Linked DNA regions of Homo sapiens. The protein of the gene in region 1 interacts with the protein of each later gene in a pairwise test. Each region holds a gene or a part of one and is shown on either strand. Other genes may lie near its edges. The genes, in order: ADAR, UPF1 and DICER1.

Region 1 (10,628 bases):
CCCAGTGGCTCAAGTCAGAAACCTGAGGATCATCTTTTCCTCTATCTCCTTTACCTCCTTCGTCAACTCATCCTTAAGTCCTATTGGTTATACTTAGAATTTCTATCCCAAATCCCTTCCTCTTCTTTCCACCTCCAGCGTCAGCACTCTAATCCAAGCCACTGTCTCATCTAGACTGTCACAATAGCCTCCTAACTGATCTTTATACTTTATTTACTCAACACTTATTTATGGAGTATCTTCTATTTTTTTTAGAACAGGAACCAAACATTAACCAATAGTCACCTAAAGAAATGTAAGATCTCATATTTGATAAGTATTCCAAAGGGCTGGAGTTGCAGCGAGAATCAATTATAGCACAGTTTGACTTAGGAAGGAGAGGGGGAAGGGCTTCCCCAAGAAGTACTGCCTGAGCTGAGACTTTAAGGATGATGAAGAGAGAAAGACTGAGGGTTCTAGGCGAAGGACACTGTTAAATCCTGTGGTGGGAGAAGCGCAGAGCTGGCAAAGAGGCTGAGAGGAGGCACTTATGGCAATAGCCCCATTTGGCTAGTGGCTACCATATTGGATAGCACAGCTCTAAAGGATTCTAGTTGCATAATTAACAAACTTTATCATATATGTAAATATATCAGTATAAAACTTTGCACGTAAGAGTTCATATTCTTTTCAAACACATGGGGCAGTCATGAAATTCTCCTGGATCCCTGAGGTAAAGATACTACACAATCTGTCCCTCCTGACCGCCTTCACCATCTTCTTTTCATGCCACTGTCCCTCTCATTCTGAACTTAAGCCCACTGGCCTGCACGGGCCTGCCAGCATGGACAAAGAAAAGAGTGAAGGCATTTAGTTGCTTCGGATCATCAAGGAACAGTGAGAAACTCCATGTGGTTGAACATAAACGTTGATTCCTTTTACTGCCTGAGCTGCTAAGTCTTGAAACTGAAGCCTCTGTTATATGCAGTTAGAGTATCCAAAGCTGGGTTCTCAGCCAGTAGATTAGGATCTGGTTGAAAGCTAGGATTCTTGATGCCTTGTCTGGTACATTTCCAAGCTGTTTTGCTCCACCATGCTCTTCCCTCTGTGTTTGGAAATTACCAGCCGGAGCGGTAGAAGCCACCTCCCTGCTCCACTTGGGCACTTTATTGTCAGCGCAGCTCATGCGCCCAAGATCCATTCCTTACCCCAGAGTTAGCTTAAGCCTGCCAGGAGTCAAAAAAACAACTCCCAGCAAAACCTGGGTCCCTGGCCTAAGGCCGACCTTGACCTAATGACCTCTCCAGGTCAAGTCCCCTTGAGCTAATAGGAAGTAAATGAGGGAATGGAGTTGGGCGCTTTAAAAATCAGACAGTGTATGAAGTAACAGTGACTTGTGGGGAGAAAGGTAGTCCCTTCTGATTTCTGCTTAAGAAGAGAGTCCAAGTTGGTGCTAGCATTTCGTTAAGCCTTCCTCATACTTCATAATCTTCCTTTATAGTAAGGACAGGCTCAGAGCCTTTGCAGGTAACAGTATCTAGTCAGAATTTTATAACATGATTTTATCATATTCTGTTTTACAGCCACCTTCAATATGTGGCAAGTGATACTGGTTTTCCATTTACAGTAGTGAAACAAAGTTTCCTATTTCAGTGTGTTTACATTTTTATCTCTTTTTTCATACCTAGTATTACGGATATTTACATTTTTAGAGTCTGTTTGTTTATTTTAGAGATGGGGATCTTGCTGTCTCGCGCAGGCTGGAGTGCAGTGATATGGTCATAGCTCACTGCAGCCTTGACCTCCAGGGCTCAAGTGATCCTCTCACCCCAGCCTCCCAAGTAGCTGAGACTATAGGCACAGACCACCGTGCCCAGCTAAATTTTTTTTTTTTTTTTTAAGAGACAGGGGTCTCGCTATGTTGCCTGGGGGATTACTATGTTGCCCAGGCTGGTCTTGAACTCCTGGCCTCAAGTGATCTCCCACCTTAGCTCCTCAAGTTGCTGGGATTACAGGTGTGAGCCACAATGGCTGGCTCTAAGAAGTCAATTTAGAGAAAAATATTAATTAATAGTCCAAGTAATACCTGGATGTGGCACAAATCATGTGGTGATTCATGAATGACCAAAATCTAGGAAATGCTGCCTTAGAAACAGCTTCTGTTTGACGGGTCCATATGTTTGCAAGACTGGCCACATCTTCAGCAAAACTAACCCTTCCTTGGAACAATGTCAGGGTCTGGCACTTGTCTTCATTCTCTGTTTCTCATCCCAAAGGTTCGTTTACCAAGCAAAAGTTGGGGGTCGCTGGTTCCCAGCCGTCTGCGCACACAGCAAGAAGCAAGGCAAGCAGGAAGCAGCAGATGCGGCTCTCCGTGTCTTGATTGGGGAGAACGAGAAGGCAGAACGCATGGGTTTCACAGAGGTAACCCCAGTGACAGGGGCCAGTCTCAGAAGAACTATGCTCCTCCTCTCAAGGTCCCCAGAAGCACAGCCAAAGACAGTTAAGACGTCTACTTTTGGTGCCTTTTTTGGGGCGGGGGGGTCCTCCTAACTCCTAAGTGGAGGTGGCTCTTGCTGTCATGCGAGTTATTCCTAGGCTTTACTCTTAGCCTCGAGAGAGCAGTAACTGGGACACTAGATGTAAGAAGGAAAAGATGACTCACACGACAAGTAGAGCTTGATCTCCCTGCCCACGGTGAATATGGTGGACACAGCCTCAGCTTTGTGGTGCTGACACAGCCTCTTTTCCCCACAGCTCCCTCTCACTGGCAGCACCTTCCATGACCAGATAGCCATGCTGAGCCACCGGTGCTTCAACACTCTGACTAACAGCTTCCAGCCCTCCTTGCTCGGCCGCAAGATTCTGGCCGCCATCATTATGAAAAAAGACTCTGAGGACATGGGTGTCGTCGTCAGCTTGGGAACAGGTGAGTGAGGCTCTGAGACATGCCGCCTCCCATGGCGCCTGAAAGCGGGTGCCTCTCATCCTCCCCTGGAGTCCATGCATGTAAGTCCAAGGCAGGGAGAAGAGACTTCATTTTAGCTACAGTCAATTCAGAGTGAGGAATGAGTTCTTAGTTCCTAGAGGAGAGAATATGGGAGTCTAGGATCTGAGAAACTGAGGCTGTTTCTGCCTTGAAGCTTTCAGAACAAATAGCCTTCATCCTGTTTTCCATCGGTTTCCTTCCATTATTCTATTTCTGTTTTAAACACCTTCCTAGGGAATCGCTGTGTGAAAGGAGATTCTCTCAGCCTAAAAGGAGAAACTGTCAATGACTGCCATGCAGAAATAATCTCCCGGAGAGGCTTCATCAGGTGAGCGAGGTCAGAGCTGTGGCCCGGCTGCCCGGCTGTGGAGAGCTCCAGTTCCCTGCCCCACATGGCTCTGACACGGCCTCTGAATCCCCCTCAGACAGACGGGTCATGATGTGGCAGTGGCAGCCTTTGCTTTTCACCCGTCCATTTGAACCTGTCTGATGGAATCCATCCCCTCTGTGAGCTGAGCTGCCTCCCACTGCTCGGCCTGTTTTTAAATGCTGTCCTTTTTTCTGCTAACTCTGCTGCTTCATGTTCTTTTCTAAAAACACAAAATGACCTTTTAGTCCTCAGGGCCTTGAGGATGAGGCAGCTTTCCATTTCCGTTTGAGGACCTACACAACCTTGATGCCCCTGCCAGCTTTCTCCTCTAGCTCACCTTTTCTTTAATTTATGAAGGGAGAGACTTAGAAAGGAGCAACAGCTTCCTGTAGTCCTTGAATCAGTTTGCTCTGCTCTAGAATCCCTGTAGCCGCCATAGCGAGGAGCCCTCAGCAGAAATGAAGGAGACCCAAAAGGCTAACTATGCTTTATGAAATGCTGAGGTCTCCCCTGGAGAATTTCCACCTGATAAACTGTGAAACGTCTGCAACATTGAGACTTTTCCTTACTTTCTCATTTGGAGGTCAGATTATAGAAACAACTGCTTTTCCCAGAATTGAACCTGCCTTCCTAACCAGACTTTCTTTTTGTAGGTTTCTCTACAGTGAGTTAATGAAATACAACTCCCAGACTGCGAAGGATAGTATATTTGAACCTGCTAAGGGAGGAGAAAAGCTCCAAATAAAAAAGACTGTGTCATTCCATCTGTATATCAGGTCTGTACAGTTCCTGTTGCTGCCAGGGTGGGCCCTGCCAGGCTGTTAGAATTGGGTATCCAAATGCTCTCCTGGCCTGTAAATCGAACCTGATACAATAAGCCACACTCCACTGTGGGTTTGAGGTCCATATTCAGGTGTAGATGACTCACATGTACTGCTGTCCACCTCCAGTCTCCCATGGTAGGCCTTAGAAAACATCCCTTGCTTCTGTCACATCTGACTGTTTTGGAGCCCCACGAAATTGCAGATTTCCCACAGGTGAGTTTTAACAGCCACCCCTGTTTTTCAGCACTGCTCCGTGTGGAGATGGCGCCCTCTTTGACAAGTCCTGCAGCGACCGTGCTATGGAAAGCACAGAATCCCGCCACTACCCTGTCTTCGAGAATCCCAAACAAGGAAAGCTCCGCACCAAGGTGGAGAACGGTGAGTGATACATGCCCCCGCCTCCTTTCCTCAAAAGGCTCTGCAAGGTCCAGGGACCCCAAGTCTCTACAAGGCTGCTAGGATTTTACCATTAGTCACTGGGCACAGAGGTGCTGTTTACAGGAAAGGGAAGACCTGGGTCAGGGAGCTGTGTGGTAAGATCAGGGTTCTATTTTGAATGTGTTAGTTTGGGAGATCTGGGAGATCCCCAAGTCAAATAGGAGGTGGGGGTTCCCATGTGGAGCTCAGAGGAGGGAGCTTGGCTGGAAATAGAAATATGGGAGTCATCCCCCTATAGGGTCTTCATGGCCATGAGAATGCATAGGATTACCTCAAGAAAGCGGGGAGGAAATGAAGAGTGCGGCACAACCAAGCCCTGAGGAGTTGACAGATGAGGATGCCAAATGCTGGGGTCCCCTCCTGTCTAGCTGGCAGTTGACTCTGCCTTGTCCACTGGCTCCTTCTCTCCTATCCTCTCCTGTCTCCTTACTGTCTCTTCGCATCCACTCCATTGCGTTCAGGCCACGTCAGCAGTCATCATGGTGGTCCTGAAACCTTGCTAAATACCCTAAAGTATAGACACAGTTACCATGGAGCCGGTGCTCCACTCCTAGGTATATGCTGCAGAGAGATGGAGATCTGTGTCCACACGGAAACTAATATGTGAATGTTCATGGCAGCATTACTCACAAGAGCCAAAAAAGTGGAAACAACCCAGACGTCCATCAGCTGATGGATTCATAAATAAAACATCAAATATATCCATAAATTGAATATTATTTTGGCCATAAAAAGAAGTGAAGTGCTGATACATGCTTACAATATGGATGCACTTGAAAACTTGATGCCAAATGAAAAAAGCCAGTCACAAAAGATCACATATTGTATGATTCCATTTATATGAAATGTCCAGAATAGACAAATCCATAGAGACAGAAAGTAGATGAGTGGTTGCCAGGGCCAGGAGTGGGAGAGTTGGAGAGATGAGGAGTGACTGCGCCAATGGGTAGAAGGTTTCTTTTTGGAGCGATGAAATGTTCTAAAATTGACTGTGGTGACAGTTGCAGAACTCTGTGAATATACTAAAAATGACTGAATTGTATGCTTTAAATGGGTGAACTGTATGGCATATGAACTATATCTCAGTAAAGCATTTTTTTTTGTTTTTTTTTAAACCCGATAGTGGTTTCCCACTGCACTGCATATACAAGCAAAACCTGCTGTGATCACCCGGCCTCCTCTCATGCCACTTTCCCCATCCCTCGCATATGCTCTGTCCACACTGGCTCTCTGTCAGGCGCCTGAACAGCCAATCCGCTGGCTGCCTTGGGGCCTTTGCTTTTGTCCTGTGTGCCTGAAACACTTACTCCAGCTGTCCTCCTCCATGTCTGGGCTCCCCTGCTGCTGCTGTCCCAGGAGGTGTCCCCTGTGGTCCTCCGTCATAGCTGCCTCAGAGCCTTCAGAGCACTGTCAGCATCTGGAATTCTTCCGTATGTACTGGCTACTGGTTTAGTGTCTATTCTCTTCCCTTTCAATCTCCTCACCACCATAGATGTTTTAAGAGCACAAAGATCTTACTTGGTTTTGCTCACCGTTCTTTCCCAGCACCAAGCATAGTGCCTGGCGCATAGCAGGGGCTGTGAAATATGTGAAGAATGAATGAATGTAGCCTGTGGCCCAAGCTTAAGGAGGATAGAAACCACGCCAGGGAGTGGTTTGGTCCATTGGCGCCTGTGGGTCTGACCCAAGTCTCTCACACAGGAGAAGGCACAATCCCTGTGGAATCCAGTGACATTGTGCCTACGTGGGATGGCATTCGGCTCGGGGAGAGACTCCGTACCATGTCCTGTAGTGACAAAATCCTACGCTGGAACGTGCTGGGCCTGCAAGGGGCACTGTTGACCCACTTCCTGCAGCCCATTTATCTCAAATCTGTCACATTGGGTAAGGGGCCTGCCTTGGGATCTGGAACTGGTCTGTCCTTCTTGTGCCCAGATCCCAAACTGCATGCTTTATTGCCAGGTGTTTTGTCTCCCTTATCAAAGTGAGCATGATTCACTCCTCAGTAATTGATTGAGTGTCCAGTCTGCTGTGGTAGGAAGATCCTGGTAGCCCCAGTCAGAAGGTGCTTCCTAACAAGGCAGCTGTTTCTCTTTCTTGACAACTATATCTTGTACCTCCAAAATCCCCACATGCTTCTGCCTCTTAACAGCATTTGGTGCAAACACAGGTATATATGTTTCTCTTTTTTGTACTCAGGTTACCTTTTCAGCCAAGGGCATCTGACCCGTGCTATTTGCTGTCGTGTGACAAGAGATGGGAGTGCATTTGAGGATGGACTACGACATCCCTTTATTGTCAACCACCCCAAGGTGCTATAACCCCCTTCTATTTTCCCTGACATTTTCCTCCTTTTCAAGCAGTCATGTAAACAGAGGAAAAATGTACACTGTGGGCAAGGGGAACATTGCCCACAGTGGTAGCCCACAAGGGAACATTGCCCACAGTGGCCCACCACCAACATTGGTTGGTCTCCCAAGAACTTAAACTTTCTTCCTTTTGGATGCCAAGGGCTTTTCTTCTCTTAGTCTGGAATTAATCTGAATCGAGGTGGAGTTAGTATGTCTAGAGGGTGCTCAGTCTTAGCCAAACAGAACCCTAAATACAGGGGAAAGATCATGACCCCACACTTCCTCTCTCCTATGAGTCTTGAGTCCCTGCTTCAGAATCTTATTCCTGAAAGGTTTCCATCTTTCTCCCGTTGCTTCTGGGATTCCTAGGTTGGCAGAGTCAGCATATATGATTCCAAAAGGCAATCCGGGAAGACTAAGGAGACAAGCGTCAACTGGTGTCTGGCTGATGGCTATGACCTGGAGATCCTGGACGGTACCAGAGGCACTGTGGATGGGTAAGGAGACAGGAGAGCGCAGTGAGGACCAAGCCTCTGCCCTGACTTGCAAGGGTGCATCATACCTCTGCAGTCTCAGGGCTTGAGAGCCGCCTCCCCTCCCACGGTGTCTCCACTGTGAGCTCCTTATCTTACAGGTCCCAGGTGAATAATGAGTGCTTTTGTTTCTCTAGGCCACGGAATGAATTGTCCCGGGTCTCCAAAAAGAACATTTTTCTTCTATTTAAGAAGCTCTGCTCCTTCCGTTACCGCAGGGATCTACTGAGACTCTCCTATGGTGAGGCCAAGAAAGCTGCCCGTGACTACGAGACGGCCAAGAACTACTTCAAAAAAGGCCTGAAGGATATGGGCTATGGGAACTGGATTAGCAAACCCCAGGAGGAAAAGAACTTTTATCTCTGCCCAGTATAGTATGCTCCAGTGACAGATGGATTAGGGTGTGTCATACTAGGGTGTGAGAGAGGTAGGTCGTAGCATTCCTCATCACATGGTCAGGGGATTTTTTTTTCTCCTTTTTTTTTCTTTTTAAGCCATAATTGGTGATACTGAAAACTTTGGGTTCCCATTTATCCTGCTTTCTTTGGGATTGCTAGGCAAGGTCTGGCCAGGCCCCCCTTTTTTCCCCCAAGTGAAGAGGCAGAAACCTAAGAAGTTATCTTTTCTTTCTACCCAAAGCATACATAGTCACTGAGCACCTGCGGTCCATTTCCTCTTAAAAGTTTTGTTTTGATTTGTTTCCATTTCCTTTCCCTTTGTGTTTGCTACACTGACCTCTTGCGGTCTTGATTAGGTTTCAGTCAACTCTGGATCATGTCAGGGACTGATAATTTCATTTGTGGATTACGCAGACCCCTCTACTTCCCCTCTTTCCCTTCTGAGATTCTTTCCTTGTGATCTGAATGTCTCCTTTTCCCCCTCAGAGGGCAAAGAGGTGAACATAAAGGATTTGGTGAAACATTTGTAAGGGTAGGAGTTGAAAACTGCAGTTCCCAGTGCCACGGAAGTGTGATTGGAGCCTGCAGATAATGCCCAGCCATCCTCCCATCCTGCACTTTAGCCAGCTGCAGGGCGGGCAAGGCAAGGAAAGCTGCTTCCCTGGAAGTGTATCACTTTCTCCGGCAGCTGGGAAGTCTAGAACCAGCCAGACTGGGTTAAGGGAGCTGCTCAAGCAATAGCAGAGGTTTCACCCGGCAGGATGACACAGACCACTTCCCAGGGAGCACGGGCATGCCTTGGAATATTGCCAAGCTTCCAGCTGCCTCTTCTCCTAAAGCATTCCTAGGAATATTTTCCCCGCCAATGCTGGGCGTACACCCTAGCCAACGGGACAAATCCTAGAGGGTATAAAATCATCTCTGCTCAGATAATCATGACTTAGCAAGAATAAGGGCAAAAAATCCTGTTGGCTTAACGTCACTGTTCCACCCGGTGTAATATCTCTCATGACAGTGACACCAAGGGAAGTTGACTAAGTCACATGTAAATTAGGAGTGTTTTAAAGAATGCCATAGATGTTGATTCTTAACTGCTACAGATAACCTGTAATTGAGCAGATTTAAAATTCAGGCATACTTTTCCATTTATCCAAGTGCTTTCATTTTTCCAGATGGCTTCAGAAGTAGGCTCGTGGGCAGGGCGCAGACCTGATCTTTATAGGGTTGACATAGAAAGCAGTAGTTGTGGGTGAAAGGGCAGGTTGTCTTCAAACTCTGTGAGGTAGAATCCTTTGTCTATACCTCCATGAACATTGACTCGTGTGTTCAGAGCCTTTGGCCTCTCTGTGGAGTCTGGCTCTCTGGCTCCTGTGCATTCTTTGAATAGTCACTCGTAAAAACTGTCAGTGCTTGAAACTGTTTCCTTTACTCATGTTGAAGGGACTTTGTTGGCTTTTAGAGTGTTGGTCATGACTCCAAGAGCAGAGCAGGGAAGAGCCCAAGCATAGACTTGGTGCCGTGGTGATGGCTGCAGTCCAGTTTTGTGATGCTGCTTTTACGTGTCCCTCGATAACAGTCAGCTAGACACACTCAGGAGGACTACTGAGGCTCTGCGACCTTCAGGAGCTGAGCCTGCCTCTCTCCTTTAGATGACAGACCTTCATCTGGGAACGTGCTGAGCCAGCACCCTCAGATGATTTCCCTCCAAACTGCTGACTAGGTCATCCTCTGTCTGGTAGAGACATTCACATCTTTGCTTTTATTCTATGCTCTCTGTACTTTTGACCAAAAATTGACCAAAGTAAGAAAATGCAAGTTCTAAAAATAGACTAAGGATGCCTTTGCAGAACACCAAAGCATCCCAAGGAACTGGTAGGGAAGTGGCGCCTGTCTCCTGGAGTGGAAGAGGCCTGCTCCCTGGCTCTGGGTCTGCTGGGGGCACAGTAAATCAGTCTTGGCACCCACATCCAGGGCAGAGAGGTCTGTGGTTCTCAGCATCAGAAGGCAGCGCAGCCCCTCTCCTCTTCAGGCTACAGGGTTGTCACCTGCTGAGTCCTCAGGTTGTTTGGCCTCTCTGGTCCATCTTGGGCATTAGGTTCTCCAGCAGAGCTCTGGCCAGCTGCCTCTTCTTTAACTGGGAACACAGGCTCTCACAAGATCAGAACCCCCACTCACCCCCAAGATCTTATCTAGCAAGCCTGTAGTATTCAGTTTCTGTTGTAGGAAGAGAGCGAGGCATCCCTGAATTCCACGCATCTGCTGGAAACGAGCCGTGTCAGATCGCACATCCCTGCGCCCCCATGCCCCTCTGAGTCACACAGGACAGAGGAGGCAGAGCTTCTGCCCACTGTTATCTTCACTTTCTTTGTCCAGTCTTTTGTTTTTAATAAGCAGTGACCCTCCCTACTCTTCTTTTTAATGATTTTTGTAGTTGATTTGTCTGAACTGTGGCTACTGTGCATTCCTTGAATAATCACTTGTAAAAATTGTCAGTGCTTGAAGCTGTTTCCTTTACTCACATTGAAGGGACTTCGTTGGTTTTTTGGAGTCTTGGTTGTGACTCCAAGAGCAGAGTGAGGAAGACCCCCAAGCATAGACTCGGGTACTGTGATGATGGCTGCAGTCCAGTTTTATGATTCTGCTTTTATGTGTCCCTTGATAACAGTGACTTAACAATATACATTCCTCATAAATAAAAAAAAAACAAGAATCTGAATTCTTAGAAAGTTTTAAGTCCTGGTTTCTT
Region 2 (10,628 bases), on another chromosome or scaffold:
AAATAAATGAAAATCACCCTGCATTTACCAAAGGAAAAAAAAAATCCTTTTTATGAAAATGTTCTATTTGTACTACATGCAGTCCCTGCCCTACCAAAAGGCAAGAAAAAGCTAACTAGCTTGATCACCAGGAAACACAAATGAATAAACTCTGGTTAAAGACAAACACCCCAGGAGTGTTCCGGGGCTAGAGATGCCCTAGGGGCGGGGAGGCCAAGGGAGCCAGGCACCGCCCTTGAGGGGAAGGAAAGATGGGGGCACCTAAAGCTGCAGCCATGGGAACGGCCAGCATCCCGGTGTGAGGACAAGGGGTCGGCCAGGTCCCCTGCTGAGCGACTCACCCTGGCTGCTCCGATCATAGACGGAGCCTGGGATGATGGCCTCCCGGGCATCATACATGGCTGTGGTCATGAAGCGGGCTCCCTGCGAAGGTTTAGATAGGTGAGGAATTTGTCATCTCAACAGAAGGAACAACTTCCCACGGGCCCGGTGGCCTGGGAGGTGGCAGGTATGCAGCTGTGAGGTGTTGACACTGTGCCAGGGGCTCTCCCTGGAGACAGGAGGGAGCTGCTGTCTCATGGCCTCTGGGTCTCGCCTGCCCTCCTCGGCAGACCTGGGCTCTGATGCTGACCCTTGGGCCTCAGCTCAGGAAGCTTCACACCCCCTCACTACCAGATCACCCCGGGCTTGCAAAGCTTCCAACTGCCCGTGTCCAAGGTCCCAGGCTGCTGCATGCAGCACAGCAGCCCTGAGCCCAATTCCCAGAGGCCACCCAGGACTTAGCGGCCCCAAGCCAAAAATGCCACACACGGCTCGGGAGACAAGAAGTGGGCTGGCCCACCCTCCCCTAGGAGAGCCCACCCTCCCCTAGGAGAGCCCTCCCTCAGCTCACGGGCACACGGGCCAAGCTGGCACGTTCCCAGCAGTGTTTTGGGCCCGGGTTTCTCCGTGCTGCCCTGCTGTCCTGTGCAGGCGCTCACCGGGTTGATAGTGTTGACCAGCTTCCGTGGCTTGCTGAACTGCATGAGGCTCTCACGCAGGTTGTTGAGCGGCCCCTCCACCAGCACCTTCTGCTCCTTATAGTAGTTCAGCAGGTGGTTCCAGAGCGGCTGCTTTGATAGTGCCTTCGGGTTGCCCACAATGATGACGCCATACCTGCAACAAGGGCGCAGTGCTGAGGACGCAGGTGGAGAGCTGCCCGTCTCACAGGACGGTCCAAGAGGCAAGGCTGCATTCACTCAGAACCCAAATCCAAGGCAACAGAGGCGTGGACCGGGCAGCAGGCAGGCTGCCAGCCACAGGGACAGGCCCCAAAGCCCAATGCCAAGCCACTGACCCTGCACACGGGTTGATTTTGTGGCCGACTCTAAGCAGCCCCATGGCAGACACCTGGCTGGGTGGATACGTTTGGAGAGAAGACCTGCTGTCAAGAGAGTCGGCCTTCCAGGCACCGGGGCACACGCGGCCCCACAGGGCCCCCAGCAGGCCGGGGCACTGACCCGATGCCCAGCTCCTCTAGCCCACCTCACGAAGCTGTGGGGGGACCCACCCAATACTGCCCACCAAACAAGAGGGCGCCTTAGAAAGAGGGAGTAACCAATGACAAAGCCATGGTGACCTAGAGGAGAACCACCGCGCATATGAGCCGGAAGGAGCACCAGGCTCTCTCCCTGTGCTGGGTGGAGCCACAGGCCAGGTCCCCCCAACTTCCAGCTGGTGAATGGGTCCTTGCTGTCTAGTGTTTTTTTTTTTCCTTTGGAGACAGAGTTTTGCTCTTGTTGCCCAGTGGCTGGAGTGTAATGGCGCAATCTCGGCTCACCACAACCTCCTCCTCCCAGGTACAAGCGATTCTCCTGTTTCAGCCTCCCAAGTAGCTCAGATTACAGGCATGTGCCACCACGCCCGGCTCATTTTTTTGTATTTAGTAGAGAGGAGGTTTCACCATGTTAGGCTGGTCGAGAACACCTGACCTCAGGTGATCCACCTGCCTCGGCCTCCCAAAGTGCTGGGATTACATGTGTGAGACACCATGCCTGGCCTGATGTCTAGTTTTATGTGGGATGACAGAATGGACACCTTGTTCTCGGGGTCCCTTCTGCTATCATCAGTTCACAAAAGTTGTATTTTAGAACCAAAAATAGTGGACAGGACCAAAACTTACAGCCTCTCAGATTAAACAACTTGACAGACACACACAAGATTTATTTTGAATCAGACCAGAAGGGCCTGGAAAAATACGTCCTGCTGGGCTGAGGCACAGGGGCCACAGCAAACCCCCAGGACACGGAAACAAAGATCTCTCCAGTGAGACATCGTTTCTCAACTGCTGCTCAGAGTCCTCTGACCTCTGGCCCTGGCAACCCCCAACCCTAGCCCCAAATTCCCTGGGAAGTGAGGACCGATGAGCGGCTGGGCAGCATGCAGCAGGCAGCCTCCCTACCTTGCTCTGGTCAGGGCCACGTTCAGACGCCTGGGGTCATTTAAAAAGCCAATGCCTTGGTGCTCGTTGGCCCGCACACAGGACAGGATGATGAAGTCCTTCTCGCGTCCCTGAAAGGCGTCCACACTGGCGATCTCCACCTCCTGGAAGGGAGCTTTGTGGTCACTATCAGCCAGCAGGCTGCCTTCCCAGTCCCCCCAAAATGCAGGAAACACACCAAGACCCACCCTCAAATCCCACCCGGGAGCTTGGGGCCTGGCGCCTGCTCACCGCACCTAGGGGCTGTCCTGGCTCTGCTGCCATTTCGTTTTGTTTTCTTTTTTTAGAGACAGGATCTTGCTCTGTCACCCAGGCTAGAGTACAGTGGTACAATCTCAGCTCGCTGCAGCCTTGACCTCCCAGGCTCAGCTGATCCCACCTCAGTCTCCTGAGTAGCTGGGACCATAGACACATGCCACCATACCCAGTTATTATTTTTTTTTGGTGGAGGCAGGGTCTCCCTACGTTGCCCAGGTTGGTCTGGAACTCCTAGCCTCAAGCGACTTCCCTGCCTCAGCCTCCCAAAGTGCTGGGACTCCAGGTGTGGGCCATGACACCTAGCCTGTTCTCTTTTAGCCACGGAGATTTGTTTCTCAGCACTAAGAGCACACGTGCTCATCCCAGAGAACCTGAGCCGTGCTCAAAAACAGAACAGAAACCACTGCCATGTGGCCACTCAGACTCAGCACTTGGGCTCATTTCCTCATGGAGGCAGAGCTGTGCCTCCTCCCCACACACCCGCAGTGGGTGTTTCATCCGGGTGTCAATAAAGGTGTGAACACCACGGTCTCCACAGCACAACATCCAGTGTGTGGCAGGCACAGACCACTGCCGTTCCACCTTGGACTTGTTTCAACCATCCCGAGAAAACACCTTGATGTGCCAATCTCAGCCCATGTTTCTGATCCCTGTGATGTATTTCTCAAAGTCTCTGTCCTGATCATGTGGAATTTCGCAGGGTCTGTGGGGATGTGCTGTCTGTGCCCTCCCCAGAGGGTGGGCCAGCTGGTGCTTCCTGGGCCATTCTGAGCTCCAGCCAGGACGGGCCCCTCTTGGGGGGTAACTTAAAGGTCAAGGGTCAATACCCTTGCATGGCCCAGGAGACCAAGTGTGCCCGAGGGCGCAGCGCACCTGGTAGAGCTTGGTGTGCAGGGAGCCGCTGAACTGCATGTACTGCACCAGGTAGGAGCGCTGGCCCTCGTAGGGCGTGATGATGCCAATCTGGTCCGGCTTGGCGCCTGCCTTCAGCAACTTCGTGGTGATCTTCTCCACGTTCGCAGCCTCGGTCCTAAGAAACCCAGGCTGTCAGTGCTGGGCTCCACCTGTGGGATCCCGAGCCCTGAGGCTGGAGGCCGTGAGGGGTGCAGACACAACACCCTGCGGGAAGGCAGCTGCCATCACTGGCGTTTGCACAGCTGAGCTTCCCCAGCCTTCACCAGGGGAGTCTCGAGGGGCAGAAACGGCTGCCATGTGGGATTAGCAAGTATCTGCCCAATAAAAAACAAGTACAATGGAAAAGGAGGCAGAAACAACACGGTTTAGAGTCTAAACAGGCTAAACAGGAAATGAAGGCAAAAAAAGTTTCAGTCCCATGTTAAAAATAAGTAGAATGGGTCAACAACCTCTCAAGCTGTCCCCAAGACCTGCAGACGCCGGTGGGCCTGTCCCTGCTCACCTGTTCAGGTAGGAGGTGCCCGAGCTGGCAATCTCCTCTTGGCCCTGGGTCACGTAGAAGAACATCGGTTTATCGGGTTGGGGCCACTGGAAGTCAAATCCCTTCTTCACACGATCCGCTGTGAGGGGAGGGAAAGAAGTAACACTTCAAAAGCCCTAGCCCGCCTCAAATGAGTTCAGACACAGGGCAATGTAGTTGCTACGCTACAGTGCTGCAGGTCCTGGGGCAGGAGACTTCGATCTGTGAGGCCCTGGTGAGGTCACCTGAGCCGGTCCCCTGGCCAGAGATGCCCAGGATTGGGCAAGGCTGAGGAGAGGCCACCGAGAGCACCATGGCCAGCACAGAGCTGGCTCAGCCCCTGAACAGGGAACAGGGTCTCAGCCAGGGCTTTCTTGCAGCCTGGATCTCTGCCAACCCCAGGATACAGGATATTCTCCTGCTTCCTTCCAGAAGCTTGCCTTAAAGGCGCCACAGCCCCTACAACTGACTTGTGTGTGACACTGTTGAGCCAACAGTGTCCCCCTGCCCTGCAGCCTTGTCCATTCCTGCTGAGGGCCTGTTGACCGGTGGCTCTGCCTCTGGGCTCCCTCCTGGGCCGGGGCCCAACACTGCAGCTTGGGGGCCGGGGCGTCCTGCCATGTGAGCAGCCACTTTCTTCGGGCTCTTCATGCTCATCTTGGCTTTTCTGGGCCCTGTTGCGTTTCCTTAAAACTGTAAAACCAGTTTCTCAATTCACAGGTGCCCTCCTCACTCTACTGGGAGCTTCCATCAGTGGAGAAAACCGGTGTTTTTGCACAGCACCAGCCTGACATGGACAGAGGAAGCCAGACACGCCAGGACACATCATATGATCCCACGTCGAGCTGAAAATGAGGCCAAGTGGATCACTGCTGTTACAGCGAGCACAGGGGCCGCCGGATGAGCTCAGAAGTCCCTCAGCCCAGGGGCTGCTGTGGATGCGCACCCCTGGACAGTGGCCACCTGCAGGGATGAGGCGGCTTCTCACAGCTGGTCAGGTGGTTCTGGGTTCAGGTGCTGGCTATCCAAATATGCTCACTTAGTAACCACTCATTGAGCCAGACACTTGTAATGTGGCCACATGTTTACACTTCAATAGAGAATTTCCTAAAATGTACTTCCTGGGTGTGAACTACGTGCTGTGCATCAATTAGAGAGCAGTGTGCACCAGCGTCTGCCCTCTGGGCCGATGCCCTGGGGACCATGAGGGGTCTGAGCCTGCGCCGAGCCACGCCTTTCCCAGCCAGTGCTCAGACACCCCAGAGCACAAGCTAGGTCTCTGTGGCCTTGTGTTTTCAGCCTTGCCATGCGCTGGGAACAGCGGTGTCCCTGCGATGTCAATAGTGGCATCAACTCCCAAGACCTACCGCTAGGCAAAGAGTGGTGTGGCCCAACCCGGGGGGTGGGCTCTGAGCCTCACTTTCTCCTGTAACTAGGCCTGACAATACCAACCTCACAGGTTTGGAGTTCATGAGGCGCTGTGTCGGCAGCTTTCAGGACCCTTTACACTCTCAAAAGTTAGGGAGTCCAAACAGCTTTTGTTTATTGGATAACTGTATTCTCTAAACTTGGAAATTTAAAAAATATATTAATTCATTTAAAAATAACCCATTACGTGTTAGTTATTTCTCCAAAAATAAGCTAAGTAAGAAGAGTGGTCCTGTCTCCCATTTCTGCAAATCTCCTTACTATCTGGCTGAATCGGAGGCAGCTGGGCCCTGGGGTCCACCTCTGCTCAGTCCACCCTCCTGGGCTCTGGGGACGCTGTGGGGAAGCCAGGCCTCATGGATGCCTGAGGCTGGAAAGGGAGATGGGTTTGTTTTTACAGCCTTTCTGCATGGCTGGGAGTCTCCAGCCCTGAGGCCACATCAAGCTGGACAAAGGTGGGTTTCTGCAGGCCTGTGACAACTCTTTGCCACTCCATCCCCATGTGACTTCGTGACACTCTGCTGGTCATTCAGGAAGGATCTCCCACCGAGTCAAGTAGGTCTTCCAAAGGCTGACACATTTCACTGGCAATGGTGGAAACATTCCATCTGTCACCCCCACAGACCTCACCAGAAAAGTCTCTAGGTGTTGGGAAGACACCAAGCTCATGGCAAGCGACGTTAAGTTTTCCAAAATTCTGGTTTTCACTTGAATTTTACTACTGTAACAGATGTTGCCACTAGTTCTCCATGAAGCGACAGGTTCGATCATTTTTGGAAAAAGTCTGCCCAACACCTTGGGGTGAATACCCAGGGTGTGTCCACAAGGACTTCCTTCAAGCGCCGGCATACCCAAAGGTGTCACGAGAAATTTTATCTGGTCACAGTGAAACACTCGAGGCTTAGTAAGATGTACTGTTCACTTCCTCATCCAGGGCGTTTCTTACTGTGATCCGGGCACAGTCTGGCTGCTCTGGGCTGACTCTTGCAGAAGCACCAGGGGGTCACCAGCAGTGTGAGCGTCAGCAGAGTGAAAAAGGGCAGGTGAGGCCTCTGTGTTATCCAGGGAAGCCGGACACGGTCTTGCGGGCCCCAGGGGCCCAGGCCCTGAGAACAGCTGTTCTTCATGAAGCACTGAATGCACAGCCCACGTTAAGGCCCGGGCTCAGCTCCCCTAACAGCCTGTCCTGGCTGCTGTGCATGCTGCCACATGAGGCTTGGATGAATTCTCAGGCAATGACTGAGTTTTACAGAGGACACAGGCTCCCCACATGCCCCAGAGACACCACTTGATCCAAGACCATACCATCAAGACCTTGGGCACAAAGTGCCCTGACCTCAAGCAGTGGCTATGTGAAGCCGCTCAGGGGAAGCTGATGGGCCAGTTCCTTCTCCCCAGTCCACATTCCCTTGATGCCGCTTCTCTGTAGAAGCCCCTGCCCTGGGCAGAGCCCCGTTACCTGCAGTGACACCATTCTGGAGGGAGCCCTCGTAGAAGATGTTGGATGGGAAGGCGCTGAGTGCAGGGTGCATCCGGTACTGGACCTGCAGGCGGATGGGCCGGATGCCCAGCACCACCAGGCGCTCGAAGAGCGACTGTGACAGCCCGGCCTTGGCCGCCTTCTTGCACATCACCACTGGGCCCAGCTGGCAGTGGTCGCCTACAAGGATCAGCTGTAGGAACAGGGGCCCCCACAAGTCAAGAAGCTCAGGTGTGAATCAGCCTCAACACACACTAGCAAGGAAGTAGGGGCCCCAGGATGCACAGGACACCACCTGGCCACAGGGGCATTGCTCACCACGCACACTGGACGTGCAGCTGGCAGAACCCACCCTCTATAAACCCCTCAGGGAGCCCCCAGTGTGCGCACACTCTGCTGGGCATCCTACGTCAATACAAGGTGTTTTAAAAGACAAACACCAAGAATCACACACACGAGTTTTCACACAGGAGGGCAGGGGAGGCAGCCCACCTGCTTGGCCCCGAGGACCACGGGAACCATGCACTCCGGCTCGGTGGCCTGGGTGCTTTCGTCGATTAAAATGGAGCGGAACTGCATCTTGGCCAGCCTCGGGTCACCGGCGCCCACACATGTGCAGCAGATGACATCTGCGTTCTGGGGAAGGGTGCAGAGGCATCAGGGCACCTGCACTGTAAACGCCACCAGACCCCGGAGGGCAGGTGGGACAGAACACAGAAGCTCTCCTGTTTCTCACCCTCCCTGACACTATAAAAAACAAGCTGTCCCTCCCAGACAAGATACATGGTCCAGGCTGTGGTGATTACAAACTTTTAAGATCCTTAAACGGTCATGTTTCACAGAAGGCAACCTCTCCACACCAAGAGCTCTGCGCCTCACGACAGCCTCCAAGGGGCAGTGCTGAGCTGCTGGAACCTGCACTCAGGCTGATTCCAGTTCAGGCTGGTTGGTTATGAAAGAGCAGGAGTGTTCTAGATCCACTGCCGGATCCCAGTGGAGGCTGGCAGGGAGTGGAGACTCCCTAGAAGACCGTGTTCCAGGCAGCGAGATGTCCCTAATTTACTGTACAACTGAGCGCAGAGAGGCCAAGTAGAGAGCATCTAAGTTCTCTTTCCAGAAGCAAAGCAACAATTCAAATAGGTGCTTTGGCCCAAACAAAAACCATCAGGCCGCCAGCCCACAGGCCCTTTTGCAGGCAGGAGGGGCACTCACCATCAGCAGCTCTCTCTCTGCGGTGCGCTTCAAGGCCCGGTACCGCTTCTCGTCGGCAGACGACAGCTCCCCAGTCTCGTCTTTCAGCTGCTGCAGCTTCTGCAGCTCAGGCATGCTGGAAGCACATGCAGGTCAGCAGGGTGCCTGAGTTCTGTACATGTCACCCGCAGAAGCTCAGGGACCAACTGGGAGGGATGGACTCGACACACACCTGTCCATGTTCCTGATCTGGTTGTGCAGGGCCAGAAAAGACACCGGGGAGTCGATGGCCTCACGGCTCTTGGCGCAGAGGCGCACGACCTTTAGCCCCGTCTGGTGGATCTTCTCCGTTAGCTGGTCCACGGCGATGTTGCTCGGAGCACACACCAGCACCGGCCTGCAACACCATTGGGGCAGCTCAGTGCTTACCCAGAGGAAGCTCGGTGAACGTAGTAAGCCAAGACTCTGTTTTTTGAGACAGGGTCTTGCTCTGTTGCCCAGGCTGGAGTGCAGTGGTGTGATCTCAGCTAATTGCAGCCTCAACATCCTGGGCTCAAGCAATCCTCCCACCTCAGCCTCCTGAGTAGCTGGGACCACAGGTGCACGCCACTACCCCCAGCTAATTTCTGAATTTTTTTTTTGTAGAGACGTCTCACCCTGTTCAGGCTGGCCTTAAACTCCTGACATTTTTAACAGGCAGTAATGACACGATGCCGAAGGAGCTCAGATCCAGACAGCCCAGGCTTCACAGCTCTACCCACCGCAAGCAATGCCAAGGCTGGAACTTGCACCATCCCGCCACACTATAAAGTGCCGCACACGGAACTCACGCTGCTGCAGCCATGCCCCCCCTGCCCCCAGTTTTCTAAACCAGTAGCAGACCTGGTTACTAAAATGCAATCCTAAGGTTGGAGCTGACACGAATAATGTCACATAGAGAGCGGTAGGCACCATGGCGACACTACCCGCCACGTGCTCTCTTCGGTGTGACAGAGCCCAAGGCTCCCAGCACCAGGCCTTCCATCTGGCCACCCTAAAGCCCTCCCGGGTCTTGCCCGCAAGGGCCGTGTCAGCCCTACCCGTTGCCTTGCCGGGCCAGGTGGTAGACGATGGTGGCCGACGTCACCGTCTTCCCCGTGCCTGGCGGGCCCTGGATCAGGCTCAGTGGTCTTTGCAGCACAGTCTTCACGGCATAAACCTTCAATACAAGCGGCCGTTAGGGGCAGCCTCCGCTTGCGTCCCGGCCCATGGGCGAGGCCCCGCGCGCTGAGGACGGCGCGCACCTGGGAGTGGTTGAGGTCGGGGAGGCCCTGCGCCGTGAAGCGCTTGGGCAGCTGGCACTTGATGATTACGTCCTCCACCTCGTGGCCCAACAGCTTGTGGTAGATGTAGCCAGACACCGAGGTCTCATCCACGGCAAACGTTTTCAATGCGCTCTGCATCCTGTGAGGAGGGTTTGGGGTTGGCGACACGCACAGCTGTGGCCGCCTCTCCGACATCCTGAGTTTGCAGAGCTGGGTGGGGAACCCCACTCCACAGTGACGGGGAGGGCTCATAAAGATGCCACAGGTGGCAACCAGGGAACAGGGGGCAGTGATGGGAGAAGACGTACCTGTCAAAGGAGGTCGACTTCCACACAAAATCCACCTGGAAGTTGTGAGTCACCTCCACAGGTGCACCCACGCTGCTCCGCAGCTCAATGGCGATCTCATCGCCATAATCTGTGTGCTGAGTTAAGTTTGCATCCTTGTCAAAAGCCGGGCTGACCTTTCTGGGCCACCCTTGGTACACGCTCTTTAAACAGCGTTTTTAAAATTTAGTTACTTAAGACACCGCTGGCTCTGCACCAAACGCTAAAAACGTGCAGCCAACACCAGACCAGAGACCAGAAGGACAGCATCCTTGAAGAAAGACTCTACCTCACCATGAGCCGGTGTCCCACCCCCAGCCAGCCTGGAGTTCCTCCTTGCCACTCCCAGCCACCCATCTAGGCCCCTTTCAGAGACGCAGAGGGCGGCAGCGAAGCCAGCAGCGCTCACCAGCAGGGAGCAGCCACATCCTGGGCCCCAGGACCTCACCGGGAGCTCCTGCACATGTGGCCAGCAGGGGCAGGCAGAGCTCGCAGAACCCAGCTTTGGCCACAGCAGCTCTTCTCACAGTTCCACAGAAACAACACCCCTCCCAGTACGGCCAAGCAAAAGGCTCCACATACACAAGCAAACTGCCCTCCAGGAGGCTGTGGCCGGTAGGCAACACCCTTCCCTCGACCCCGAGCCCCAAAACCGGTCTCACGTGTTCAGGATGAGCTTGTCAGGCCCAGGGTGGGTGTGGGAGACAACTCTCCCTACCCCTGTGGA
Region 3 (10,550 bases), on another chromosome or scaffold:
TGACATCCTCAGAGAATGTTTTGTAGCATCTTCTTAGTCACTTATTTAAAATGCATATTGAGGTAACTGCATGTTAAAGGAGTACCAACAATTCATTGACAATTTTAGATGAGGAAGCCATTTTGCACTCAGAATTATTTTAACAAAGGCTTTATTACATAACTGAAAATGTCAATTTCACCAGCTACATCTCAAAAATAATCTTTTTCTTTCTGTATTAATTCATCAAGTATACACCACGATACAACCAGTCTTACTTTTTAGACCAACACACGTTCCTAAAGACTGGGTGAGAGGGCTGGGCACGGTGGCTCACACCTGTAATCCCAGCACTTTGGGAGGCCGAGACGGGAGGATCACGAGGTCAGGAGATCAAGACCATCCTGGCTAAACACGGTGAAACCTCATCTCTACTAAAAATACAAAAAATTAGCAGGGTGTGGTGGCGGGCACCTGTAGTCCCAGCTACTCGGGAGGCTGAGGCAGGAGAATGGCATGAGCCCAGGAGGCGGAGCTTGCCGTGAGCTGAGATCGCACCACTGCACTCCAGCCTGGGCAACGTAGTGAGACTCCGTCTCAAAAAAAAAAAAAAGACTGGGTGAGAATTCCTATTTGGAAAATCCTCACTGCCCATGTTGTCCACAGAGCTTATTCCTGAATGGATTGTTATTTAGCATCTGTCAACAGCCTGAATGAGACAACTGATATTCGAGGGACACCACCCAAAAGAAATTAATGAATCAAACCACTGGAACAGTGAACACCTGTATTACTAAAGCTTTTCTATTATGCCTGAGGCTTTTATCCAGTTTCTCTAAAATGGCATGTGAAAAAATGTTTCTCTATCGTTTGTAAAATGTAAAACATTTTCTCCATATATTGCTAATGTTATTTAATGTAATAATCCAAAAGATTGATTATTCTTCATACAAGAGAAAAATCTGCTTCAAATTGGTATGCTTCCTTTCATTAATCAACGTGAGTTACATGCAGCACTCACCTTTCCTTGCCCCAATCATTCATCTAATTCTCTGCCTCCACATTCTATACTACCAACCTTTACCATTTTCATAGTACTCTAATACTTTCCTATTATAAGACCATTTCAAATCCTTTCTCAAAATAGACATCATAAACTATTAAATAAATGTACTAATACTAGAGTCTTAGCAGAAATTTGGAAGAAGTGAAAACTAGCCATCAAAAAATCAAAAGGTCCAAGCCCCACAGGCTAAGGAGGTGGAATACCAAGAAAATAATGCTGCCTCAGAAGACTAGTCATTTGGCAAGTCGTAAATTGCAAAGAAACCTGTGAATAAGAGCGAGTATAATACATACACTGGGCTTTCAGGATGAACTAAGCTCTTGAATGTCCAAAAAGCACAGCAAAAGGTAAACAAAATAAGTCACTTGGCTCCAACTTTCTCTTTATACAAATTAAAGACCTCACCAATATCTTCCTCTGGCATTCAATAAAGCACATCACTCCATGTTTGATCAGTTTTTTGAATACCTGCCAGACACTATGATTGGAACCAAGATCGTAAAAAGGAGTCGACCCTGGGCTTCAGAGAGATTACAGATTTTACTGACAGAGGAGTTGTTTGTAGGAAATTATCACTGCTTGGAGGAACCCTGAGAAAACTCATACTGCAATAAATTCTGAGTCTAGTCTAGTGTTTTGAAGATCAAGAAACAATGTGACCACTTTGAGGTATATGTCTAAAAGAAGGGAAAGCATGGACTCCAATGAATTATTTGTATACCTACGTTCACAGCACCATTATTCACAGTAGCCAAAAGATAGAAGCTACCCAAGTGGCCATGGACAGATGAATGGATAAACAAAATGCAGTATATTCATACAATGAAATACCATTCAGCTTTTCCAAGGAAGGGAATTCTGACATCTAAATCATCACAGATGAGCCGTGGAGACACTATGCTGGGTAAAATAAGCCAGACACAAAAGAACAAATACTGTATGACTCTACTTATTTTGAGGTTTCTCCAGTAGTCAGTGACAGGAAGTAGAATGGTGGTTCTCTGGCATTGAAGGTAGGATGGAATCAGGAGTTAGTGTTAATGAGGACAGTTTGAGTTGGGAAAGATGAAAAAGTATGGAGATGGATGCTGGTAATGACTAAAAACAATGTAAATGTACTGTATGCCAGCTAGTTGTACACTTAAAATGGTTCAACGTTGTGTTATGTATATTTTACCATGCCAAAAAAAAAAAAAAACAACTATCTGAAATATTCAAATAACCATTCATTCACCTGAACATTTAAGGTTAGACACAGCTTCATTCATTCCACAAGTCTTAACTGAGGAGTCACTACACGTGATGCAGCCCTGAAATCCATTTGGAACAGTAATGCAATACAAAAAGCATGCCTCCAAAGATTCTGAAACCAAACCACAATTCGATCTCGGCTCTGCCACTTCGAGATTCCTAACTTGGGGTAATAATCACTGACTCTTAGTTTCCTTGCCTATAAAACAAGGACAATATCGAGTTGATCGCAGGGTCACAGTGAGGATTAGAAGAGAATGTACGTAGAACCTGAAACATCTTGGCGCATAACAAGGAGGCACTCAATAACACGTTTCCCTTATCTCCTTTGCCATGAGCAAGTGGAAACGTGACCATGACATGGTAGGGTCGCAAGTGAGAGACTGTCTACGAAATATCTACTTTCTCAAATGAAACAAGCACCTCACATGTCAGATAGTGGTAGAGAATAAAACATCCCAACGCCATAAAAGTCACCCTCTCTAGAAGATAGCACTACAAGTACTGTACAACCCACTATATGACAAAATCACTGTCAAATAAGAATCATGAGCCACATCAAAAGACAATGTCTTCTAAAACCAAGACAATAAAGCTCAATAATAGCAAAACAACCTAGCTACCCAACTCACACATTGAGCCACGGGCAAAATACAGCAGAGCAGTCAGGGCTTACCCTTCAAACATGAGATGGAAGCATAAAAAGTAAAGCAGGCCCTTACTAAAAAGGATTGTAGGAAAATGTCTTTTCTCCCCAAATTAAAATGGACTAACTGTTCTCTTCTTAAAACAGCATTTTGGTGCCGTGAGTAAATCTATAAACCTATGTTACCATGATCAATGTTTATAGTGACCATGTTAAAAGCAATCTTTAGTTTTTTGTTTTTTTATCTATTGAGTTTTATGGAATATGCCCTAAAATGAAGTTTTGAAATAATTGTGTATGTATGTGCATGTACACAGCACATATTACATATAATACACACGTGCCACAGGTAGCTTTAAAGTAGACTTTGCAAAATAAACTGGCTATTCCAGAACCTAATTTCCAAAGATATCAATAATATTGAAAATTACTATTCTCTAGGACCTGGCTTATCCCGAACCCATCTTTTAATAAACTGAGTTTTTTGGTGAGGATGTATATTTTTATTTAGAAAACTTAACGTTTACACCAATACATATTCAATATAGCTAACCTGTTTTAACAGCACATTTTTAACAATATTTTCCGAGTTGCTTAAATCCTAACCTGAGTCCTTTTCCACTGTTTGAAAACAAGCACCACGAAGACACCTGACAATCAGGATTGTAAAGATTCAGAATATTCGAAGACAGAAGCATAGGCGTCCAAGTGATCCTCTTTCATCAGATGAATGTTTTTAAAACCTGAAAGTCCTAAGAACACTTACTTATCGTGTAGACCAGTAACGTGTCCCTTTAACCACAACTCTCTCCACAAAAGCACGGAGTTAACACTACACAAATAGGACCCTCCAACTCATCTCCACGTTTCCGCGGATCTTCAGGTTCCTAAGGACACACTCAGTGGTTTGCTGGCTCTGACCTCCAGGCAGAGCCATCAGGGCAACTCAGCTTTTCTGGACAATCTACAGAAATCTGATGTGCTAACTTAAAACATACACTGATTTCCCCAAAATCAAAAACCCTGAAGAAAGGGTCCTCCGCAGGGTCTAGGCATTTTGGCACAAAAACATCTGAGGGGAGAGGCAAAAGAATGGCCTCGGCCCCTGCCCGCCCCCCAGGGCCCCAATCTGGTCCCCTGACAGTAATCACACAGGACCCTCCCGGGAGGGACCGAGAGCCCAGCTTCGTCCCCTCCGGGCGCGGCACAGCGGCCCCATCAGAGGAGGGCCCCAGGGTGCTCCGGCAGGTCAGGCGCGCGTCTCCACCTCCGCTGCTCCCGCGCCACCTTAGCGCGCGTGACGGGACCTGTCAAGAGCCCCAGGCCTCGCCAGGCCGGGGAGTGGACAGGCGCCGGCATCCCCCACCACGCCACGGCGGCCCGGAAAGTCTCCCAGGGCTGCCTCGCGGGGAGGCGCCGGGGTCCGGGCCCAGGAGCAGAGCCGAGGCGGGCAGACGCCGGGTCCACAGGCCGCGCTGTGCGGGACGACGAGGCAGGCGAGGCCGCGCCCTTCGTCAGCGCCCGCCAGGCCCGGACGCGCGGCTCGGGGCCATGGCCGGCACGCGGGCCTCCGCGCGGAGGCGGGAGCGCGGCCAGGCGACCCGCTCCCCGCCCCGGACACAAAGCTGCTCCGCGGGAGCCCGCCTCACCTGCAGCACGGGGCGCCGCGGGCCTTCGAGAACCATCGGACCCCGCTCCGGCGCGCGCGTCACAGCCCAGGCCTCCCGGAGCCGCCCGGCGCCGCCGCCCCCGCCGCCATTTCCTCGCGCTCGCCGTCGCCTCGTCCCCGCTGTCAGGTTACTCCATTCACCTGGGCCTGCAGCAGCCTGCGCCGCGCCTCCGCCTCGACCCCTCCCGCCGGCGCCTGCGGAGACTGCGCAGCGCCCGGCTGGCCGGCAGCCAGCGCACGGCCCGCGGCAACGGCGCACAGCCGCTTGGAGAATCCCACTGGCTCCCGCACCGCCCCTCCGCGCCCCCACGCTCCGCTCGCCCCGTGGCGGCATGAGAGCGAGCCTGTGATTGGACAGGGCCTGGCGGTGAAAGGTTAATCCCGGCCCCCCAGCCACTCAGGAGCAGGGAGACAGCGGGCGCGCGCGCGGAGGCCGGAGAGGCGTTTGCGGCCCAGCGCCTGGACTGGACCTTGGCGTTGGGCCGCAGTTGCCCGGAGTTTTTGGGGCCCCCGGGAACCCGCGCGCCGAGGCCGGCTAAGTTTGGCAGACTCTCTGAGCTCTCGGAATTCGACTGCCTCCATTGTTGCTCCTTCTGGCACCCACAGACCGTAACGTGGCCGTAATTGTTTCCCGGAGAGCTTAGCTTCCCTCTGAGCACCTCCCTCCCCTTTTTAAAGTACCTTCCCACTCGCCTGCGTTTCCTCGCGTTAGTGGTGCAGGGGCCTCCGCATTTGGGGAAATAACAAACACCCACTTCCGCCCCCCACCCCAACCGGGATCCCCAGATAATGAGAAATAGATGGTGGCCCTCTGTTTGTAAGCTGTTCATTTGCATAGGTCGGAACCGCGCACCACAGCTTGAAGCTAGGAATTAAAATATCGGTGGGAATTAAATAAGTGGCTGGCTTAAAGAACATCTTCTTAATTTATCCCCAAATGTAGACATCTCTTCAGTGGACCCCCTGATAGGCCGGTTTGCTCCAGGTGAGGTGTGCTCACAGCAACTGCAACCGTGTTTCTTTCAGACCATGGGCGTGAGCAGAACCTACTATGCGCCCCTGCTGCCTGGGCTGTGCTGTTCAGTTTGGGGCCACCAGCCCCACATGGCTCCTGAGCACTTAAAGTATGGCTAGTCGGAATCGAGATATATGCATTCTTTACCAAATAATGTTCAAAAAATTGTTACATGTTGAAGTGATAAACTTTTTCCATATATTGGGATAAAAGTTTTATTTGTTTATTTTTTAGTGTGGGTTCTACAGAATTTTAAATGTCACCTGTGGCCTGCATTATATTGCCATTGGGCAGGCTGATCTAGGGCTTGCATGCCTGTGATCCTTAGGTGCACCCTGTGAGGTAGGTGCTTTAACTGTGTGCACCCTGTGAGGTAGGTGCTTTAACTGTGTGCACATTGTGAGGTAGGTGCTGAAACTGCTTCCTGTTTTTTTTTTTTTTTTCTTTTGAGACGGAGTCTCACTCTGTCTCCAGGCTGGAGTGCAGTGGTGCGACCTGGGCTTACTGCAATCTCCGCCTCCCAGGTTCAAGTGATTCTCCTGCCTCAGCCTCCCGAGTAGCTGGGATTACAGGGGCACGCCACCACACCCAGCTAATTTTTGTATTTTTAGAAGAGACGGGGTTTCACCATGTTGGCCATGATGGTCTCGATTTCTGACCTTGTCATCCGTCCGCCTTGGCCTCCCAAAGTGCTGGGATTACGGGCGTGAGCCACCGTACCCAGCCTGCTTCCTGTTTTAACAGACGAAGAAATGGAATAACTTCCAACAAGTAAGTAGCCAGTAAGTGAACAACTGAGATTTGAACCCACGTAGTCTGGCTTTGAGGCTGGTGTGCTCAGTCATTACTGTGCTAAAATTTTGATAATATATTTACTATGAATTGGCTTAAGGTTTCACTTGAAAGTAGCATATTTATGGGCAAAATTAGGAAGTAGGATGCTCCTGGCAGACCCATGTATTTAAAAAAGTAGTTTCTTATATGTCAAGCACGGTGAGCATGTCATACCTTTAAGACCCCAGTCATACATATAAGGTTTTCTTTGTAGCTAGGAATTAAAATATCGGTGGGCGTTAAATAAGTGTCTGGCTTAAAGAACATCGTCTTAACTTATCCCCAAATGTAGATATCTCTTCGGTGGACTCCCTGATAAGCCTTTATGAGAAGGACAGCATCTCAGTATGGGGGTAGGCACTGGACTCTATTGGCAGTGGAAATTTGTGGGCTGGTACAACTTCAGCCCCTCTGGTTGCCCTCTTGCAATCTGTCAAGACTAGCCAGGCTGCTTGTTCCATCAGCAGGTATACCTGATTTTTTTATTTTTTTAATTTTATGTATTTGTTTTTTTCTTTTTTGAGGCAGAGTTTCACTCTTGTCGCCCAGGCTGGAGTGCAATGGCGCAATCTCGTCTCACTGCAACCTCTGCCTCCTAGGTTCAAGCGATTCTTCTGCCTCAGCCTCCCAAGTAGCTGGGTTACAGGCATGTGCCACCACGCCCGGCTAATTTTTGTATTTTCAGTAGAGACGGGGTTTCACCATGTTGGCCAGGCTGGTCTCGAACTCCTGACCTGCCTCGGCTTCCCAAAGTGGTGGGATTACAGGCATGAGCCACTGCGCCTGGCCGGTTTGTCTGATTTTTATCAATTTCAGTTTTTATTTTTAAAATAAATAGTATATCCATATTATTCATTTATCAGAAAGCCTATAAAAGATACACAGTGGAAAAAGATGTCCCTCACACCTGTCCTAGTGTCACAAATAGGTGACCACTGTTTCCTGCTCATTCTTCAAAATGTTTATGTATATATGAGCCAAGATATGCCCTTTGTGTTCCTTGTTTAGAAAAATGCCGGCATGCCATACATATTTACTCCACCTTGTGTTTTTTACTTAATGTATCCGGGGGGCATGTTTATAGTAACACATAGAGAGCTCCTTGCTGTTTTTTCAACCCCCTTAACATATTATTGCAGGTATATCCATACCATAATTTACCAATTCTCTATTGATGGACATTTAGACTTTAAGTCTTTTGGAATTAAAAGTTGATCCATTTGGAATCGATTTAATATATAGGGTGAGGTATAGATCCAAATTAATTTTTTTGTCCAGGTGGCTACACAGTCATTTATTGAGCAGTTCACTTCTGGACTCTGTATCCGTTCTAATGGTCTATCTATTCATGCTCCACTTGCTGGTTTGTTTTAAATCCAGAGACATAAAATCTTGTAAGGGATATTGTTTCACACTTTGTTTGGATCACTAGAAATCTTAAAGCCTATATTTCAGCCCGTGTTAAGCAACGGTATAGTACCATGTGGCATGCATTTTCTATGGGCTAATTTTTATTTTCCCTTAGCCCCTATTATTTCCACAATTTGGTTTATTTTTTGTAGAACAAGCCAGGATTTAAATATACCTTTAAGACTCTCTGTTTGCAAGTAACAGAAACCAAGCTGAACTAGCGCAACCAAAAAGGGAGAATTTACCATAATGATATAGGTGCTTCTCACAAAAGCCCAGAACAGGAATACAGCCACATCTTAGCAAAAACTAGAACCAGTCATTGAAAAGCTTCCAGGAACCCAAAAGGTACTCTCTGTGCCCCTTGTGATTGTTTTCTATGTATCTCTGCTAACTTGTTCTCTCTGCTTTTCCATCTACATGGGAGAATATAGTCACTCCCATATTGGACTGGGCTGTCAGTTCAGTGAGGAGTCTGAGCCCAAAGAAGGAAGGTGGGGCAGCAGCCCTGCAAGGCCAGACAGCTGATTACATACAGGAGAACTACACAAAGAAAAACTATATTGAGGCTAATGGGAGCCAGATTTTTCCCTGTTGGAGAAGGGAGTTACAAGTACAGAAATAAGAAAAGCAAGAAGTTTGTGTGATTGGATTGGAATTGGAGATATTCATGTAAAGTCATGGTTCTTAATACATGTAGATATAAAAATAAATATAAATGTAAAAGTGTGTATCTATATATTTTGTGAGATTCTGAAATATATATTTGGTCTTTGACCTCATTTTCTGGTGTACAACTCCTAAATTTCTTACAAACACCGAAGTGATGTCTTTTGTATGCTAATGAGTTGGCTCGTGGCTGGGAGCCCCTAGGTAGCTTTAGGATGGGGTTGGTCATCAGAAAGACCAAGGCAGGATCAGAGGGTTGGACCTTCAGCCTATCACCAACTTCTTGGAGAAGAGAAGGGTTGAAGGTCAGGTTATCACCAGTGGCCAATAGTTTAATCAGTCATCCCTTATGTAATGAAGCCTGCATAAAAACCCATGAGGACAGGGTTGGAGAGCTTCTAGATAGCTGAACACCAGGAGGTTCCTGGGAGGGTGGTGCACCCAGGGAAGGCATGAAAGGTCTGAGCCCCTTCTCCCACACCTCATCCTATTTATCTTTTCATCTGTATTGTTTGTAATATCTTTTGTAAACATAAGTGTTTGCTTGAGTTCAGTGAGCTGCTCTAGCAAATTAATCTAACCCAAGAGGGGGTCATGGCAACCACAACTTGAAGCCTGTCGGAAGTTCTGGAGGCCCAGACTTGGGACTGGTCAGTGGCCAGGGACAGAGTGGGGCAGTTGTTGGGATGTGTTGGGGAGTGAGCCTCAACCTGTGGGATCTGATGCTATCTCCAGGTTAGAAGGGAATTGGAGGACACCCAGTTGGTGTCTGCTGCAGAATCGATTGCTTGCTTGGTGTGTGGGGAAACGCCCCCCGACATTTGGTCACTGAAGTCTTCTTTGTTAATTGTTGAGGGTGAGGGAATAGGGTGTGTAATTTTTCCACAGTCAGTTATATACACACACATGTCTATAAATGTATTTACATATATTTCCTAGGCCTAACCAGTGAGAAGGTCTTGGTGCAGCAACACCACATTAGCCAAGAGAACACCTAACACCTAGCTCTAAACACCTTTCTCCATGAAAAGGAACCAGGGCGCTTTAGAGAAATGGCTGATTTTAGGGTTGGGCCAGAGAAAGTATAGTATGAGACTGGAACATCTTGTGCTAGAAAGTGTGGAAATGCTCAAGAAATGGTGGAGACAGTTCAAAAGGACAAAGCAATCAGCTTGAAAGGGCTCCTGTTGGCCAAATCTGGGACAATTTGAACATCAAAATAAATCACAGTAGCAGGAGATTATATCCCATGGGTTAAAATGGAATCTATGAGTCCACACTTTCAAAAAAAAAAAATAAATGGCAATAAAGAGCTCTTTAGAATAGAATTCAATAATATATTTAGAAAAAAGAATGGAATTGTAACCCAGTCATAGGTTCAGCAGCCCACTGCTTACAGAGCACAATTAACAAGAGTGAGGTCTGCCGTAAAGAAAGTGACTTTTTATTCCAAAGCTTAACGTAGGGGGAAAAGTGCAGGTTCCTGCCTTAAGGTACTGATTTGCTTTTGGGGCAGAAAGCAGGGGCTTTTAAAGTGGGACTTGGCATGAATGGCATGCAGGGGAGGGAGCAAGCAGGTGAGGATCTACATGACTCTCCTTAGCGCTTTTATCTACCGGGTGTTTGAGCTGGCACCATGGCAGGCAGGACTAGATTGTAAAGTGGCCATTGTCTGAGATGCTCTCCAAGTGGGACAGAGTTTCCTAGCAGGCATAGTTTAGATTGTAAATTGACTGTTGTCTCTCCAGGCAGTCTCCTGGTGGGAGAGATTTCTGGCTTAGAACCTTCTAAAAGCACATGGTTAAATAAGCTTGCCCTGTAAGGAGTGTCTGGTGAAGGGAAGGTAAAGATTATAATTGCATTTCTAAGGAACTAAGTGGGAAGTGGGAGAAAGGAGAAAAGGAGAAAAGAAAAAAAAAATGTTTTAAAACACAGTTATCTTTCTCTTAGAAAAATGGGGGTACTCAGTAAACAGAATTAGAAAATCACCATTTGGCAATCATCAGACAAG

What was found.
Region 2: the proteins of ADAR (region 1) and UPF1 interact in binary tests that used the Homo sapiens proteins (3 or more experiments, as listed by UniProt).
Region 3: the proteins of ADAR (region 1) and DICER1 interact in binary tests that used the Homo sapiens proteins (3 or more experiments, as listed by UniProt).

What each region holds. Positions count from the first base shown.
Region 1 is NC_000001.11:154,582,037-154,592,664, reverse strand, and holds the end of ADAR (double-stranded RNA-specific adenosine deaminase), read left to right. Parts: intron 1-2,255; coding exon 2,256-2,481; intron 2,482-2,736; coding exon 2,737-2,908; intron 2,909-3,202; coding exon 3,203-3,296; intron 3,297-3,991; coding exon 3,992-4,114; intron 4,115-4,406; coding exon 4,407-4,540; intron 4,541-6,301; coding exon 6,302-6,484; intron 6,485-6,799; coding exon 6,800-6,912; intron 6,913-7,320; coding exon 7,321-7,448; intron 7,449-7,621; coding exon 7,622-7,859; 3' UTR 7,860-10,608; downstream 10,609-10,628. UniProt on the Homo sapiens protein: Catalyzes the hydrolytic deamination of adenosine to inosine in double-stranded RNA (dsRNA) referred to as A-to-I RNA editing.
Region 2 is NC_000019.10:18,853,965-18,864,592, reverse strand, and holds part of UPF1 (regulator of nonsense transcripts 1), read right to left. Parts: intron 10,017-10,628; coding exon of another isoform or gene 9,993-10,016; coding exon 9,884-9,992; intron 9,715-9,883; coding exon 9,555-9,714; intron 9,470-9,554; coding exon 9,351-9,469; intron 8,669-9,350; coding exon 8,504-8,668; intron 8,408-8,503; coding exon 8,293-8,407; intron 7,717-8,292; coding exon 7,573-7,716; intron 7,274-7,572; coding exon 7,060-7,273; intron 4,273-7,059; coding exon 4,155-4,272; intron 3,768-4,154; coding exon 3,611-3,767; intron 2,584-3,610; coding exon 2,441-2,583; intron 1,156-2,440; coding exon 981-1,155; intron 424-980; coding exon 342-423; intron 1-341. UniProt on the Homo sapiens protein: RNA-dependent helicase required for nonsense-mediated decay (NMD) of aberrant mRNAs containing premature stop codons and modulates the expression level of normal mRNAs.
Region 3 is NC_000014.9:95,152,639-95,163,188, forward strand, and holds the start of DICER1 (endoribonuclease Dicer), read right to left. Parts: upstream 4,892-10,550; 5' UTR 4,592-4,891; intron 1-4,591. UniProt on the Homo sapiens protein: Double-stranded RNA (dsRNA) endoribonuclease playing a central role in short dsRNA-mediated post-transcriptional gene silencing.